5 linked regions of the Homo sapiens genome follow. The protein of the gene in region 2 purifies or fractionates together with the protein of the main gene of each other region. This does not show direct contact. Each region holds a gene or a part of one and is shown on either strand. Other genes may lie near its edges.

What was found.
Region 1: the proteins of METTL13 (region 2) and PIN4 fractionate together in Homo sapiens (co-fractionation; one large-scale study listed by BioGRID). This does not show direct contact.
Region 3: the proteins of METTL13 (region 2) and ANKMY2 fractionate together in Homo sapiens (co-fractionation; one large-scale study listed by BioGRID). This does not show direct contact.
Region 4: the proteins of METTL13 (region 2) and ELMO2 fractionate together in Homo sapiens (co-fractionation; one large-scale study listed by BioGRID). This does not show direct contact.
Region 5: the proteins of METTL13 (region 2) and DNAJC8 fractionate together in Homo sapiens (co-fractionation; one large-scale study listed by BioGRID). This does not show direct contact.

The regions. Positions count from the first base shown.
Region 1 is NC_000023.11:72,195,245-72,198,763, reverse strand, and holds the end of PIN4 (peptidyl-prolyl cis-trans isomerase NIMA-interacting 4), read right to left. Parts: intron 1,980-3,519; coding exon 1,860-1,979; intron 1,397-1,859; coding exon 1,238-1,396; 3' UTR 424-1,237; downstream 1-423.
Region 2 is NC_000001.11:171,784,643-171,788,161, reverse strand, and holds part of METTL13 (eEF1A lysine and N-terminal methyltransferase), read right to left. Parts: intron 2,284-3,519; coding exon 2,084-2,283; intron 428-2,083; coding exon 232-427; intron 1-231. UniProt on the Homo sapiens protein: Dual methyltransferase that catalyzes methylation of elongation factor 1-alpha (EEF1A1 and EEF1A2) at two different positions, and is therefore involved in the regulation of mRNA translation.
Region 3 is NC_000007.14:16,621,736-16,625,254, reverse strand, and holds part of ANKMY2 (ankyrin repeat and MYND domain-containing protein 2), read left to right. Parts: intron 1-173; coding exon 174-272; intron 273-3,519. UniProt on the Homo sapiens protein: May be involved in the trafficking of signaling proteins to the cilia.
Region 4 is NC_000020.11:46,368,616-46,372,134, forward strand, and holds part of ELMO2 (engulfment and cell motility protein 2), read right to left. Parts: intron 3,355-3,519; coding exon 3,191-3,354; intron 3,077-3,190; coding exon 2,964-3,076; intron 2,845-2,963; coding exon 2,737-2,844; intron 1,911-2,736; coding exon 1,828-1,910; intron 354-1,827; coding exon 276-353; intron 1-275. UniProt on the Homo sapiens protein: Involved in cytoskeletal rearrangements required for phagocytosis of apoptotic cells and cell motility. Acts in association with DOCK1 and CRK. Was initially proposed to be required in complex with DOCK1 to activate Rac Rho small GTPases.
Region 5 is NC_000001.11:28,209,022-28,212,540, forward strand, and holds part of DNAJC8 (dnaJ homolog subfamily C member 8), read right to left. Parts: intron 1,617-3,519; coding exon 1,550-1,616; intron 1,046-1,549; coding exon 951-1,045; intron 1-950. UniProt on the Homo sapiens protein: Suppresses polyglutamine (polyQ) aggregation of ATXN3 in neuronal cells.

The sequences.
Region 1 (3,519 bases), on a different chromosome or scaffold from region 2:
ACCTTGGCCTCCTAAAATGCTGGGATGATAGGCCTGAGCCACTGTGCCCAGATGAGGTCACTGTATTGATGCTGAACTTAGTGCTGACACCCGATTGGCATAGGACACTACAGCCCAGAACTCCTGGGCTCAAGTGATCCTCCTGCCTCAGCCTCCCAAGTAGCTAAGACTACAGGCGCACACCACTGGGCCCAGCCATAGTTTCATCTTATATCTATTTGAACTTCTCTGTATACACTGGCATATCTGCTCCGTGGGGAAAATCTCATGGAGGCATAACCTACTGAGGTGCTCAGAAACTCTTCTCAAGTGGGAAAGTCAGGTATCTAGGTAAAGTTCCCATTATATAAGTGGGTATAATATCAAATGCAGCTGAGGGAGAGAAGGCAGTGTGTTAAAATAATCTGTTAAGAATCACATAGCTGTGTTGGCAAAGTTTTATTTTTGAAGCAGTATAGTATTTATATTAGTAATCTTTATACTTTTTTATATGTCATAAATATGGCATTTTAAATTTTAAAAATTTAGATGCACAGAACATTGGCCCTGGAAAGGACAGTCTTAATGTAACCCATACACTGAAGATGAGGGAATGACATTTTTATGCTGACATCCCTCCCTTTAACCAGCACTCGGTTAGTCTAGTACAAAACAACTCATGGAACAACTGAGTGCTTTTTTCCTCCAATAAACATTTATTTAAAAAGAAAGGAGTTAACACTGAAAGGCATAACGTGCCACGTACTATGTTAAGACAGTGGAGCTAATACCACCTGTCCTGGAAGATCAGAGTTGACTAACATGTAAAACAAATGTTGTCTAGGAACTTATTTTATGATTCTCACACACTAATCTATTTGATGCCCAATATTTTCAGTTGTGTGAATAGTGTGAGTTGATATCTGCTTCCCCTGAAGATGGTTTCTGAATTAATTTATGGGACAGACTGAGAGTCAGATATAGTTCTGGGAGGAAAGAGAATACAGGTTAAAGGGAGTCTGCTTGACTTCTCTTTGAGAAAGACTGACTGAATACCTACTACAGTTGACATTCACTTAGCCCCACCCTCTCTTACACCTACAAACCCATACTTAGAGCTTTCACAGAATACAAGGAGCATCCAATATCTTTTCTTTTTAAAAATTTTTGTATTTCCTTGCAGCTCCAGCTCAAAAGAATATGTAATACCTTTTAAAGAAACAAAATGTATAAAACTTATTCAGTCTTTCATATGATTTTATTTTCTTCCTTCGACCATAATAATATGATATCCAAATTTTGTCTTAACCGGTGGGTCTGTAAACACAGGCTTATCCATCCCACTTACAGGCAAGGCAAATGCTGCTTCTTGAAATGGTCCCACCATGGACCCTCTGGTCATCCAACCCAAGTCACCCTGAAAAACCCAAAAGATAAGTGATATCAAGTGGCCCAGAAGAGGGAACAGTTCTACTGTAGCTTGAGAGAATTTCCCAACATTTTGCTAAGGTTACGAGGTATATTCCTAAGAGCAATACAGGAATAGGCTCAATAAGGACAAATAGGTAGAAGAAGTCTAACTAGACTGAACACATAAGTACTCTCAACACTGCTGGACTTTGAAGTTAGCCGTGCAAGTTTGGTCATGCATAGGTTTTGACATAGATGACCCTTATTCTACTATTTACAAGTTGGACATTTCTGCTTTTGAGATCTTTAAACCAAAATATCGCTACAACCAATGGTTGAACAAAGGAATGATCCCTACTTCTGTGTTTCTTCTGTGGAGGATGGAGAATTTTTATCTTATTTTATTATTTGTCATTTTTACTTTGCTTTCTTACCTTGAGAGAAAATTATAAATAATAAGAGCAACATACCCCTTGCCTGGCTTTATCTTCACTATACTGTGCGGCCACTTCATTGAATCTCATCCCAGACTTTAACTTTTCCATGGCTTCCATGATTTTGCCATGTTTTTCACATAGAATGTGTCTGACCTGCAAGGAAAAAGTACATTCATGTAATACTTGGAGACCCAAATGACTCCTTAAAGTACAGTGGTTACATTTGGATTACCCCCACCAGTTAAAAAAAAAACACATTAGTTCATAGCAAGTAAAAATCCTGGAAGTTTGCCCAGGACAACAACCACAATCCCATTCCCCATATTAAGACAATGTCTCAGAGTCCTGATTTAGATGGAAAATAGGCACCTGGCTGTGGGAAGCTCCGCCTTTTTTTTTTTTTTGAGAAGGAGTCTTGCTCTGTCACCTAGGCTGAAGTGCAGTGGTGTGATCTCGGCTCACTGCAACCTCTGCCTCCCGGGTTCAAGCAATTCTCCTGTCTCAGCCTCCTGAATAGCTGGGTTTACAGCTATGTGCCATCACACCTGGCTAATTTTTGTATTTTTAGTAGAGATGGGGTTTCTCCATGTTGGCCAGGCTGGTCTTGAACTCCTGACCTCGTGATCCACCCGCCTTGGCCTCCCAAAGTGCTGGGATTACAGGCGTGAGCCGCCGCTCACGGCCGGGAAGCTCCCATCTTTTACCATATACCTTCATGCTAACAGGAGGAGGAAACACGATACGGGTTGAGAGCTGTGGTCCTAGAATCAAATCCCAACTCTGCTGTATGAACTTAGGCTTTATTTATTTATTTATTTAGAGACGGAGTCTCACTCTGTCTCCCAGGCTGGAGTGCAGTGGTGTGCTCTCAGCTCACTGCAACCTCTGCCTCCCGGGTTCAAGCAATTCTCTTGCCTTAGCCTCCCGAGTAGCTGGGATTACAGGCACCCATTACCACGCCCAGCTAATTTTTGTATTTTTAGTAGAGATGGTGTTTCACCACGTTGGCCAGGCCGGTCTTGAACCCCTGACCTCAAGTGATCTGCCCGCCTCGGCCTCCCAAAGTGCTAGGATTACAGGCGTCAGCCACCATGCCTGGCTGAACTTACGCATGTTTTTAAACCTCCAAGTGTTTCTCCATTTGTACATCAAGATGCAATGATAACGGGACCTATGTGTTCTCATAGGATTGTGAAGATTGAGATAATGCAGCTACCATTGACCAACGGCTAGCTATTATTTCATCAGAGTGAGGATAAGAAAAAACCTGCTAGAAAGTATTTCTATCTTTTTTTTTGAGACAGAGTCTCCGTCTGTTGCCCAGGCTGGAGTGCAGTGGCCCGATCTTGGCTCACTGCAACCTCCACCCACGGGTTCAAGCAATTCTCCTGCCTCAGCCTCCCAAGTAGCTGGGACTATAGGTGCGCACCACCACGCCCAGCTAACTTTTTGTATTTTTAGTAGAGATGGGTTTCACTGTGTTGGCCAGGCTGGTCTCAAATTCCTGGCCTAAAGTGATCTGCCCACCTCAGCTCCCAAAGTGCTGGGATTACAGGTGTCAGCACACCGTGCCTGGCCAGGAAGTATTTCTTACTAAAAGAGACCCAATGTATAAGCCTCCCCACAATTCCACACTTTGAAAAGGTATCATAGGTTGAATATTAAGAACGCCCAACCCTACTGAAGTATTCAA
Region 2 (3,519 bases):
AATGTGATTATCACTGTATTTGGTTTCACTACTCACGTCCCCTATCACTTCAGAGCCAGGCTCTGCTCAAGAACAGAATGTACTCTGCTTATAGCTATTCACACCCTAAGAGTCCAGATGGTTAAGAACCTACAGACACCCAGGTCCATCCTACATCTCGGCCAAGCTCCCAAGAAATCTAGTCCATGCCACGGCCACTTGGGTCCCACCACTGTGCCTATGACACCTCACCTTTGTGAGACACATCCTTCAGCAACCTGGCTTCGGACTGCACCACATTCCTGTTGCTGAGGAAGATCAGTCGACGGAAGTATCGCTTGTCATCCCCTTGCACATCCTCAATGACATAGTCACCGCTCAAGGGGCTGCAGTCTTGGTGCTGAACGGTCCGGACCCCAATGTCCCCACCCACAGACAGAAAGGGGACCTGAAGGTACAACCAGAGATGTGGTCAAAACAGCAGCTCATTTAAGAAATAAGAGAAATTATAACCCCTTCCCTTTTGTGTGTATATATCCCCATACCACGGTTCTAGACAACAACTACTCCACAGATTTGCCATTCTATTAAAGTACTTTTCTGGAGCCTTTGAACTGATCTCAAAGGTTTAATTCATCTTTTGAAAATCAACTGGACACATAAAGATCTCCCAAACAACTAGTGAGATGCAGCTGATTCTCCCCAAGTTCTTTTAGGGGTTTTTCTCATCAGTAACCCCTAAAAGAACTCTCAATAGTCCAGGATAACAAAAGCTAGAGGGAACCCTCAGGAAGGGGCTGTGATTATGAGAAGGAATCTACACAAGAATAAAGATAACAAAATCCATGGGAGAAACAACCACTCCAAATCTAGAGAGATATTCCTTTCCCCTGATTATTCTCATCTATTTTTCCCCCACTTTTCTGAACCTTAGGAGAAAAATATACTTTCCCCCTAAACTTTCCCACTCCTTCCCCCTATCTTTATTTCTTTTTTTAAAGACCTATAAGACTAGTTAATAATCACCAATATCTCCTGACCCTGCAGACTCAGGCACTGGTGAGAGGCCACAAATGAAGCTCCTCAGAGGATCTGGGCTTCCTTGAAATAGGGGTCATCAACCCCAAAGTTGGCCAGGAAGAATCAAACTTACATTCATCTGTAAACACGAGTCAGCCTAGTGGGCAAAACCACAGGCCAGGAACCCAGGAGCCTGGGTTCTTTTTTTTCAGATCTGTTACTATTTGCACCAAGCCTCTAGATACCTTTGCTTTCCCACCTATCAAGAAGGATCAAAGCTTGGGCAACATAGGGAGACCCTGTCTCTACAAAAAATGTAAAAAAAAAACTAGCCAGGTATGGTGGCTTGCACCTATAGTCCCAGCTACTACCAAAGGCTGAGGTGGGAGGATGGTTTGAACCCAGGAGGTTGAGGCTGAGGCTGCAGTGAGCCGTGATCACACCACTGAACTCCAGTCCAGCCTGGGCAACAGAGCAAGACCCTATCTCAAAAAAGAAAAAAAAGGATCAACTCCTCATCATGAAGTTCTTTTAGTAAAATCACTTGTTCGTTACCCATGGTGACCAGGATAGCACAAGACAGTTGGTGTTAACTGATAATACCATATCACCACTTAGGCAAAAACCTTCGGTTTCCTTCCCAGTAAAACACCTGACCAGCAATGTGAATACCTGGATAACTGTGCTGAGCTGTTTTGGCCCTCTTCCATTTATACCCTCAGATAATGATAGTTCTAAGAAGCAAAATGACCAAGAAAGTCCAGTGTGGAAGGAGAAATCCACAGTCAGAGCAACTCAAATTAGGAAGAACTGAAGCCCGCAATGAGTAGAGCATTTCCATCCTGCCATGTCTATGGACTCTGAGAGGCTCCCCCAGACACAGACGCTACTGTGCTCACTTTCCTCTCATTGCCTGGGGCAAAGGACAGTTTCCCTGCCATTTAACCCTTAGCTGCTGATACCCCTCCAGGATTAGATGAAGAGTCACAGACTCTAGTCCTAGCTCCTGCCAAGGCTCCCTCTGCCTCCCTGGCTGCTAACATGACTTCAGAGACCCATGAAAGCCGTACGAAAGCTTTGTTACCTGCTGCTGGGTGGGCATCCCAGCTGGGGCCAGCTCCATGACTCTAGCCGACAGCTCAGCTTGGATGTGGTCCATGCTTTCATACTGCTGACCTCGGTGAAGGGCCACTGTAATCAACCTCCTGAAGCCAGCACTGGCCGCCAGCTGTTTCCGGCCCTCATCCATGCCAAAGAGCCACTCGGTCTCCCGGCCCTGAGGGACTAGAAAAAAGAACTTGGTTACAGGGAGTCCTGGAAAGTGATCAAGCCCACAACCAATATGGCCCAAACGGCAGGGAGCCAGTCCCTGTCCAAGACCAGCATCTTCCCCAACTGTGACCCACTGAGGAGCTAACAATTCTCTAGTTCACAACATCTAGGGCAAAGCAGCCCATCAGACATAAGGCAGGACCAAGGGTGGAGAAGAAGTGTGGGCATGTCCGTAGGGGAAGGAGGCAGACACCTACCACAAGAAAAACAGCAGTAATGCCAACACAAATAAGCCATGCCAGGCATGACTCCAAGCTGTTGACAAATATATATTAATGGAATCCTCCAACAGTCCAAGATGCAGGTAGTAGTATTATTCCCATTTTTACATATGAGGAAACTGAGAAACAGAAGTTACACTATTTGCCCAACTTCGCACAATAAGTAAATGGTGAAGCTGGGACTCAAACCCAGGCAGTCTAGCCCCAGACTCTACCCACGCTTGTATTCACTGCACTATTTATTTCCACACATGGACAGACAGAATTATAGAATACTTGAAAAACTAGCTCAGTCACCAGGAAACAAATTACCGTAACACCAAGACCATAAACACTTTGCATTTGTCTACAATGTTCCACTTTTGAAAGCACTTCCTCCTACTATCTTTTTTATCCTTATTAAGATAAATCTGATATAACTTACTGCTTTCAGTAATAATGGCTAACATTTACACAGCACTTCCAAGGCCAGGTACCATTTCTAAGAGCTTTTATACTTCTCACAACTACACCAGAGTTACAATCCCATCAAGGCAGAGAAAGAAAAGTAACCTGTCTAATGTCACACCATCAGGAAATGACTGAGCCAAAACTGAAACCCAAACAGTCTGGTTCCAGAGCTCACTTTTTTAGCTGCTACCCTATGCTGCCTCTCCAAATTTTGCAGAGAAGCACAGCAACTTCCCCAGGTCCTGCAGCTCACAGGCTACAGCTGGGACTAGAACCTATGTCTTAGACTTGCTAGTCCAGCATTACTTCCATTACTCCATGCTACAAAGTAACTAGCATCTCTATATCATATGTGACCTCCTAAATTTATCTCTATTCTCTCTCTTCCCTACCAACCCCATTCTCACACTTCATCAAGCCTTTGCAATGGCAGATGAAAAGGAATAGGTCTCAACTCCAAGTAGGTTGCTAGAGAGCTATTACTCTCCTTTCATCATGCCTTGGGTAGTCTAATCCT
Region 3 (3,519 bases), on a different chromosome or scaffold from region 2:
ATAGCATTTTATTCTTTACTGTAGTTAGGATTCATGTTTTAAAAGAATGAAAATATCCACATGACAGAAACCTAAAACTAACTGGGGGAATAAAGGGTATAGAGAGTTTAGAAAGGGATGTTTAAATTGTGTCCTCCTTAACATTAACAAATGTGTTCCCTTTAAAACTCTAGGTAATAAAGACATCACATGGGTAATGTTAGAAGCTGGTGCTGAGACAGATGTTGTCAACTCTGTGGGAAGAACAGCAGCTCAGATGGCAGCCTTTGTGGGTGAGATTTTGCTGCAGTTTTGCATTAGATTATACCCAAAATTTCCCTTGTGGAAAAAAAACCCACTTTGCTTCTCATGGTGAAAATATTATCATGTTGCTTTAAAAAAACTTAAGTATTTACAGTCCACTGTAACTTAATGAAACACCTAGTGACTCTGGAGAAAACAAATGGCTATTTCGAATTTCCACTTTTTCAAATACAAAGAGTAGTGGGGCCATTGTAATTGCTCACAAATGCTTATAACATGTATATTTTATGTCTCTGATGGAAGTAGCTAACCCTAATGTTTAAGAATGCTAACCGAGAAGTCAGTAATCCCAAGTTAAATTTTGGCTGTGCCACGTGATAGCAAAGTACTTAATAATTCTGACCTTCAGTTTCCTCATGGTAAAATGTTACAGGGTTATTGTGAGGATTAAAAGAGGTGATAGACTTGAACTTTCCATGTAACACTAAATAAATGGTATTAGTTACTGTTGTTAATAATTATTACAACAATGACATAACTCTTAGGAAAGAGTACTTGATAATAATATACAACTACTTCGTTATCATTCTCATCAACCACAGACGTTTATTTTGTGTGCCCAATAATTCTTGGCATGTTAATCCTATTGCTTGACATAATGTAAGGAAAGAGTGGGAGTGAATTCTTGTTCTTTGGTATTTTGACACCATTGAATTGGTGGTGAAGAGAGTCCACTGAGAGAAAAGCAAAGAGCAACGTCTGATTTATTGGGAGTGCAGTAAGTGGCCGTATAGGGACTAATAATTCATTAAACAAATAATGTTCACAACCTATAAAGCAAGCATCACTGTAGGTGTCTTGGTTATAGTGACAAGACAGGCTGTTCATACTTTCTTGGCACTTAAAGGGTAATAGCAATGACAAATGGTGCGAAAACACATACTCCAAGGTAGAACTTCAGAGCTCCATAAAAATACATAGAAGAGGAGGATCTGTCCAATTCAAGGGGGTTTTGAGAGAAGTCAGGTTCAGATACAGTGTAAATTAGGTGTGGAGGATAGTAACTGAATATTATGTTAAATTTTATTAGAACATTTTCTTGAAACTACTAATAGAAGCTGCCATTGATTAAGCCAGACACTCAGTTGCTTTATGACAGCTTTTTCTGTTAGAAGAAGTATCCTTATTTTCATTTCAAAAGGACTTGAGAAAGGTATGGCCTTGTGTAAGCTTCGGAGAAATATTTTAACTCCCGTGTGTACAGGCCCCAAGTTGCCCCATCTCAGTTCTGAGCTAATTTTGAGGGTGTCACTGCAGGGGGAAAGAACACTAAAGTAGGAATCTGGAGACTTGAACTTTAGTTCATGTGTGCTGATAATTAGTTATAGGATCACGGGCAAATTCCTTTACCTCCATAGGCCTCAGTTTTCTGATCTGTATGCAAAGAAGCAGGGGAATTAGGTGATCTCTGAACTTCTATTTAACTGTACAAGTTTTCATTATATCCACAATGTAACAAAATATTGCTCAGATACAGGTAAAAAAATTTCCCAAGATCACAGGTCTGGAAATGGAGGAGTCTCTTCTTTCAGGCATTAACACAATGCTCCTTTCTTTTTCTTAACACTACAATACTAACAAAATTTTTACTACAGTAAAAATTGTTTGCAATCCTATCCTAAAATAAGAGTAATGTTTTCATTCCATTTTAATATATTTAACTGATTTCACAGACAGAAAATTACATTGCACCCTTCCAGTTGTTACTGTATTTTCCAAATAATTAGCCTTTAAAAAAGCTCATTCTCCCCTTTTTGTTTCCTTCAAGTGGATCAGTATGTATACATGCGTACATACATACATAAGATTTTTGTCATTTTTTAAAAATGCCACCCATCACACAGCAGATATTCCTTGTAGCTTGTTTTCTTCACTTACTAATACATCATGGAAGTTCCTCCCATCTCAGTAGGTGTAATTCATTTCCTTCAACAGCTATATGATACTCCATGATATAGATGTTCCACAGTTCAGTTAGCTCTCCCTTATTGACAGATTTTACAGTTTTTTAACCACTTTTCTACAAATAATGTAATAATCATCCTTGATTTTCTATGTTTTACAAGTTAGTACTTGAATATTTTTTACATGTTAGAACTTTAATATCTCTAAAGTATTTCTTAGAAGTAAAATTGCTGAGACAAAGGATATAGAGTTTTTATTTTTATTTATTTATTTATTTATTTATTTATTTATTTATTCATTTATTTTTGAGATGGAGTCTCGCCCTGTCGCCCAGGCTGGAGTGCAGTGGCCCAACCTCAGCTCATTGCAACCTCCGCCTCCCGGGTTCAAGTGATTCTCCTGCCTCAGCCTCCCAACTAGCTGGGATTATAGGTGTGCGCCACCACGCCTAGCTAATTTTTTTTGTATTTTTAGTAGAGATGGGGTTTCACCATGTTGGTCAGGCTGGTCTTGAACTCCTGACCTTGTGATCTGCCCGCCTCGGCCTCCCAAAGTGCTGGGATTACAGCCACCACGACCAGCCTAGAGTTTTAATTTTAATGTAAGTCTAGATTCCTTTCCAAAAGGGCATAGTAATTCACAGTAATATCCTCATCAGAGCTGAGTATTACCATTCTTTGATTTTTGCCACTCTGATAGTTAAAAAGATGGTACATTGTGAACTTACTTTCCCCTCATTATTTATGAAATTAAGCACTTCTGTTGTTGGTAATTTGTATTTTCACTTTTGTGGATTACCCACTTATACTCTTTATTCATTTTTTTGTGGGGGGATGCCCTTTGTTATTGCTTTGAGGAGCTTTATGCATACAAATCCATTATCTAACAAATGTGTTTCAAATATTTTATGCCAGTCCTCCTCTTCCTCCTCCTCCTCCTTCTTCTTCTTCTTTTTATTCCTCTTCTTCCTCCTCCTCTTCCTCTTCTTCTTCTTCCTTCTTTCTTCTTCTTCTTTTTTAACTTTATGGAGACCTTTACCATAGGAAATTTATTTATTTATTTATTTATTTATTTTTTTGAGATGGAGTCTCACTCTGTCACCCAGGCTGGAGTGCAGTGGCATAATCTCGGCTCACTGCAACCTCCACCTCCTGGGTTCAAACGATTCTCCTGCCTCAGCCTCCCATGTAGCTGGGACTACAGGTATGTGCCACCACACCCAGCTAATTGTTGTATTTTTAGTAGAGATGGGGCTTAGCCATGTTGGCCAGGCTGGTCTCGAACTCTTGACCTTAGGTGATCGTCCCACCT
Region 4 (3,519 bases), on a different chromosome or scaffold from region 2:
ATCCTTGGCAGCCACCCAATGCGCCTGGAGGAACCTCAGGTCCAGCATTATGTAATGATACCTGCTGCTTCATCTGGGTGCCCCCCCAACCACAGCTCCTCCTTTGAGACATTCCCATCCTATTGAAATGCCACCTTCTTCTCAAAGCCTTCCTAGGCTTCAATATACACTGCAGCCACCCACCACAGGGGACTTTCCTGTTTTGCTCATTCCTGCCACCAACTGAAGAGTTACAGAAATAGCTCTGTTGTCTAAGGCAGCGCCACACTGCTCACCTCATATTTATTAGGTGCGATGAAGTTTAAGGTCTCATCAGGGTCATACAGGATGGAGAAGGCCAATTCCAACACCTCCTGAAGGAGAAAGGGTTTAAATTAGAGCGATGGAACAGCCTGGGGTCTGCACATCAAGATCTTGGCCAAAGTCCTAGTGACTCGGCATCATCACCAAACATGCTGATTCAGATGAATGTCATCAATGCTCCTAGGCGGCCACAAGTGTGGCTGGAGATGAGGCCCAGCATAAATCAACCTTAACTTACCCACTCCCTGCCCAAGTCACATCAAAGATGTTGTGATATTTTTAAGATTGGAAAAAAGTCATTTTCAACACTCAGAACCCTGGAAGGTCACGATCCATGACTGTAAGTTATCCTAAAAGTTTTTATATTACCAAGATGACTAACAACTTCTATCGTGCTGTATTTGGCATAGGAATGTCTTAACAATTAAAAAACAAAACAAAACACACACACACACAAAATTGGTCACTGTTGCATGATACCAAGGAACTAACTCATTATTTTGAAAGTAAGTACATAAAAGAAGAATCAGCATTTATTCTCGTTTCCTATATAAACTGTACCACTGGGAAACCAATAGTAGATAAGGGCAAGTTTCATGGTTCAGCTCATAAATGAAAAGCAATGACTGCATCAAAATATCATGAGTTTGCAAACCTTAGTTGACTGATGGAATGAGGCACTGAGCTTCAACAGTCTGCTAATTATCACAAAAGGAGAGACCACCAGACGTTATGTGCCTCTTGATAGAACATAATACCACTGATGACACTGGCCAGGAAAAAAGTTAAACCTGAACTGGATCAAACCTCTAGATCCCTCTTCCAATGTACAGATCTGGGACAGAGGAACAAGTTAAACTGTACCACGGGGAAACAATCAGCAAAATTCAGATGCTAGGAAACTACCAAACAAGCAATCTGGTTCTTCAGCTAATAAACTGCAAAGGAAAAGATGGTGGGGGATGGGGGGGCGGGGGAACTTATGAATTAAGAAACTTAAAAGACCAGTCTTAGACTCTGGTTTAGACAAGATGGGTATGGGGGTGTGTGTGTGTGTGTGTGTGTGTGTGTGTGTGTGTGTGTGTGTATCCATATAAACATTTATATATCTGTAGAGAAATTATGACATTTATAAGACAATTGGTAGAAAGTCACCATCAGTGGAATATTTGATCTGAAATAACTACTTTCATTTCCTGTTATGTGTGCTAATGGACTGGTGGCAATGTTATACACTATACGATGTACACTAAATATTTACAGATGAAACAGTGTGATACTTGGGACTTTCTTCAAAGCGATAAAGGAGAGAAACAAGTGGATGGGCAGAACTGGCCATGGTTGCTGAGTCTGGGTGATGTGTATACAGAGGTTCCATCTATTTTTGTGTATGTTCAAAATTCTTAATAAAACATTCAGGAATAGAGAGGGGAAGATGCCAAGAATGCACCTGGAAAAAACCACCACCAATGGCACTCTCCAAGTATCACTGGGCCAGCTACTCAAACTGGCCTCTCTACTCACCTTGTTCTGTTTCAGAGCACTTTTCTCTTTCATGTGGGGACAATCTTTCCCAGTGACAATGGCCTTAATGTCTGCAACAGGAACTGATAAATGATGGGAATTAGTCTCTGGAAGTTCATGCTGCAAGCTGGTCAGTGCCTACATCAGTGCTGGAAGGGAGGTACTGGGGCAGATGCATAGGAAGCCTCAGCCCCAAACTCCAAGGGCTGCTGTATGAGCTCAGTGAGGGTGGTGGGGAGGATGGCCTTGTACTGTTCCCTCCGTCTTGGTCACTCCTGTAGACCACAGCCCAGTGAGGCTGTGTCAAAGCTAACTGAGGGTCACTTCAGGGCTCTTGGATTTATATCCCCAAGGAACGGGACCTTGGTGACTCCCTTCCCCTCTCCTTCACAATAATGGCGATGATGATGCCATCATCGCCAACAGCAGTGGCAGCTGCTAACAGTTATGCTGACTACCTGCCAACCACTCTTCTAAGTGCTTTGCATACATTACTCATGCAATCCTCTTAGGAGGAAAGTGTGGCTATTATTCCCACTTTACAGGAGAAGAAACCAAGGCAGAGGGGAGAACTTGCAATTAATTAGAATTCAAGTTAATTAGGAGCAAAGCCAGGATTTGAATGTGGGCAGTCTGGCTTCACAGCTTCTCCTCTTAACTACTGCCTTTCGACTTAGTCATGTACCACCCTTTACAGTCTACACAATACATTCACACCTGTGAACTCATTGTTTCTCCAAACCACCCCACCGAGTAGGCCAGGTAGAGGAAATCGCTGACAGATAAGGAAACAGGTCCAGAGAGGTAACAGGTACAAGCCCAGATGATCAGCTACAAACAGCTGGACTAGAACTCCTGTCTCCTGACAAGTCCAGCAACCATGACACATCAACAGAGAAATGAACCTACTTTTCTCCTGCAGGGATTCAAATGTCACCTCCCCTTGTGGGTTGTCATCCAAGTCACCATAGTGAAGGACCTTGTGGTTCAGTGCCAACCGGCAGTACCAGAACCGTTCTGGAACACAAGGGAAGCCAAACAGGTGAGCAACGACAGTACTGGGAAAGGCCTGGGCACAAAAGGGGCCATCCAGGCAGGCTCTTCCCGGCACCAAGGATTGCCCCGTCTCCTCTCACCTTGCCTTCGGCGGTTCCCAATCTTTCGGAAGCTGCTGCCCTCACAGAGCCGGTTCAGGCGCTGCTGCTTGATCAGCTCAAGGATCTCGGGCTGGATCTTCTCCCTCAGCTCCCTGGGGTGGACACACACTGGAGTGAGCGGAAGGTCATGGGGACAGTGGAGCTCTGGAAGGAAAGCAGAGCTGGCAGCCACCTCCCCCGCCAGCCTCCCCTGAGATGGAACTTACACAATTGGCGGGGACTGGAAGTCATCCTGACTCATCCTCTCAGACTGGCGCAGTCGTAGAATCTCAGAGTAACTCAGGCTACGCAATTTGCTCTTGAACTGATCCAAAGAGTTGGGTTTGGAGGGCAAAGCTCGAGTGATTTGCTCTCGGACGACTTGCATAACCTAAGAGGAGAAGAACCCAGCCAACTCACACCACTACTCTTGAGAAATGGACAGGCCTATTATGGAGCACCAAGGCTCTTTCCTGCCCCAGGGTCTTGAGCAGGGCAGGCACTACAGACATCTGCTGGGTGAGTAAGGTATACCTTCTTAGATGGTTATTCAGGT
Region 5 (3,519 bases), about 140 Mb from region 2:
CCCTCTAAGCTCAGAAAGGCCCTACTGCCACCCTGTGGTCAGGAAGCCTAAGGATGACTTTCTTACAGGTGAAAGACATACGAAGCCACAATGATTTAAGGAGAAACTGTCAGGCACTTTCCCTATTTCTACCAGGATAGGGCCTACAAGTGCCATTTCCAACACATGACCCGCAGGATATAGTTATGGGCCCTTTGTCTCCTCTTCTTATCCATTTTCCTCACCGAAACTGGATTCATTATTATGGTTATAAAGTTGTCTCAGATTTCAAAGCTCTTCATGTGAAAAGTCATCCAATCACAATTGAAGCAGCTCTTACAAATGACCTCAAGATTCTTGCCCCAGCAAGTAAAAAGTTAAAAGACCTTTCTTACCTTGGGAAAGCCATACTGACATTTCCCACCACATTGGAGACTTATGTATGCCCTCAAGAGCAAACAAAAATAACACCAGCTACAACTCAGTTTCCTTCAACTGAGTTCTTCCCAACTCTGTTATTAAGATGGACATAAACCTCCTCCTATTTTAAAAAAAGTTTACGCCTATCCTCTTGCTAGCCTTTGCCAAGCCTTGTTGCAAACCCTTCACAGGGACAAGAATAAAAATCAAGAGTCAAGAGTCACAGGCTGCTCCACGTTTCCACTCTAAGAATGGGGTAAGTGGCAATATGTGATGAGAGGGAGAGAACAACCCTTTCTCCCCAACACAGGACTGGTAGGGAAAGAGGTAGGAGCAGTGTACCAGCTACTCCTCATCTGAGTTCTTCTCTTAGGGGTGAATTACAGCTTCAGGCACACACTATTCATGACCACCACAGCAAAGTGGTAGAGAGCACAGAAGTAGCCACAGGTTGTGCCAGTAGGCATTACTATGTTCATATGTACCCTTCTACAAGGTGCCCAAGGCTTGCTGATACTTCCTGTAAACACAGCAGCACTATAAATACTTACAGTGTGTTCCACGTATTCTTTTCCTGCCTGAATTACATCCAGGGCCCTCTTCTTTTGCTCCTGATCCAGTAGCAACTTGTAAGCTTTGTCCACAGCTAATGCAAAACATTGAAATTAACTGTTTCTGCAAACACCCTCTGAAAGTCTGAACTATACTCAGGCAGTGTAAATGGACTTGTGCTCTCTAAAGCATTCCCTACTTTAATTATTTACTGTCGTTAAACTAAGTTAAAAAAAACATTCAACTATAGCAATGACTTTCCTTAAGAGCCTTGGAAAAAATTAAATATATACTCAAGGCTAAATACACTACATCTGGATTTAATTCAGTGATAAAATTCTTTATGTTCAAAGAAAAAAAATGATCCTATGCAATAACAGTCTTTGTTGGCATATAAAAGTTTTAACAAAGCAAAGTTAAGGTCTACTTCTTAAACAACAACATTCTGCTTTGAAATGGCAACTGCTCTACTGAAAACCACAGCTTCTTGGTGACCAGAAGACAAAACTATAACAGTCTTTGCTTGATCTAGGACAAGGAACAGTTAGGCCCTGCCATTCACAATCTAATACTCAGAAGCAGGTAAATTTACAAATACCTTCAAAAGCCTTTTGTGCTCTGTCAGCATCATCTTGATTTTTGTCAGGATGCACCAAGATGGATAACTACAATAAGAGAAAAGTTGGGGTTGTCAATAAGGGAAACATTTACTAACTTCCAGCCTGCCCTGTCTCGTTACAACCAAAAGCTCTAAGGTCCTACGGCAAAAAGAGACTCTTAGCAAAAGCATTTAAAAAATTAACAAATCTCTTTAAATGCCCAGAAATACTGATCTTTAACAAAATTCAAGCACCAAAAGGTAAAGGTACAACTAGGAAACATTTCAGGTTTTAATCACAAAGTTGAGACCAAACATGCCAGGCACAGAGGCTCACGCCTGTCATCCCACCACTTTGGGAGGCTGAGGTGAGAGGATTACTTAAGCCCAGGACTTCGAGACCAGCCTGAGCAACATAGCAAGACCCTGTCTCTACAAAAAAAAAATTTTTTAATTACCCAGACATGGTGGTGGTCGCCTGTAGTCCAAGCTATTTAGGAAGCTAACGTGGGAGAATCACTTGAGCCTGGGAGGTTGAGATTGTGCCACTGCACTCCAGCCTGGGCAACAAAGTGAGACCCTGTCTCCAGGAAAAAACAAAAACAAAAACAAAAACAAAAACAAATGGAAGCCTAGCACTATGAAGATGTTGTAATAATTTGGGGGAGGAGGGAGACTGAAAGGTATCAAGTTCCTATTATGTTCCTTATGCAGGTTGAGCACCCAAAATCCAAAAGGCTCCAAAATCTGAAACTTTCTGAGTGCTAACATGATGCTCAAAGGAAACGCTCATTGGAACATTTTGAATTTTCGGATTAGGGATGCTCGACCATTATGCATTCTGCAAATATTCCAAAATCTGAAAAAATCTGAAATCTGAAATACTTCTAGTCTCAAGCATTTCAGATAAGGGATACTCAACCTGTACTAAGCACTAAGGTGGCTAAAGCAGGTATGAGACATCAACTCTCTCCTAAAAGAACTCCTAATCTAAAGCAGTTTCTCATTCTGCCTGTGCTCCAACCCTGTGAAGCTTCTGAAAAAGACAACATTCTAATTTCCACCCTCAGACCTTCTGAGTTAGTCTTTGGCATCTGCACTTTGTAAACCTCTACTAGACTGGGTTTCAGATGATCGTAGGGAATTAGCCCTTATTTTGTTAGGTGGGATAAGTGATTATGCAAGAAAATGTCCTTTTTTTGGGAAGGGTACAAGCTGAAGTATTTAGGGGTAAAGCATCATGGTTTATTGCAATTTACAATGATTCAGCCAAAAATATATAGTTAAATATATAGTCAGTGTCTGCCAGGAGCAGTGGCTCCCGCCTGTAATCCCAGCACTTTGGAAGGCTGAGGCTGGCAGATCACTTGAGGTCAGGAGTTCGAGACCAGCCTGGCCTACATGGTGAAACCCCGTCTCTACTAAAAATACAAAAATTTGGCAGGCACAGTGGCACACATCTATAATACCAGCTACTCAGGACGCTGAGGCAAGAGAATCACTTGAACTCAGGAGGTGGAGGCTGCCGTGAGCCAAGATCGCAACACTGTACTGCAACCTGGGTGACAGAGCCGGACTCCGTCTCAATAAATAAATAAATATATATATATATATATATATATATATATATATATATATATATATAAATGAAATTAACTATTCAATATAGATGGTGGATACATGAATATTCGTTGTTCTATTCTTTTTTTTTTTTTTTTTTTTGAGACAGAGTGTTGCTCTATCATCCAGGCTGGAGTGCAATGGTGCTATCCCAGCTCACTGCAGCCTCAATCTCCTGGACTCAAGTGATCCTCCCACCTCAGCCTTCTGAGTAGCTGGGACTACAGGCACGGCTAATTTTTGGCTTTTGCTGTTGTTGTTTTTCGTTTTTTGTAGAGACGGGGTTTCACCATGTTGCCCAGGCTGGTCACGAACTCCTGAGCTCAAGCAATCTGCCCGACTCAATGTCC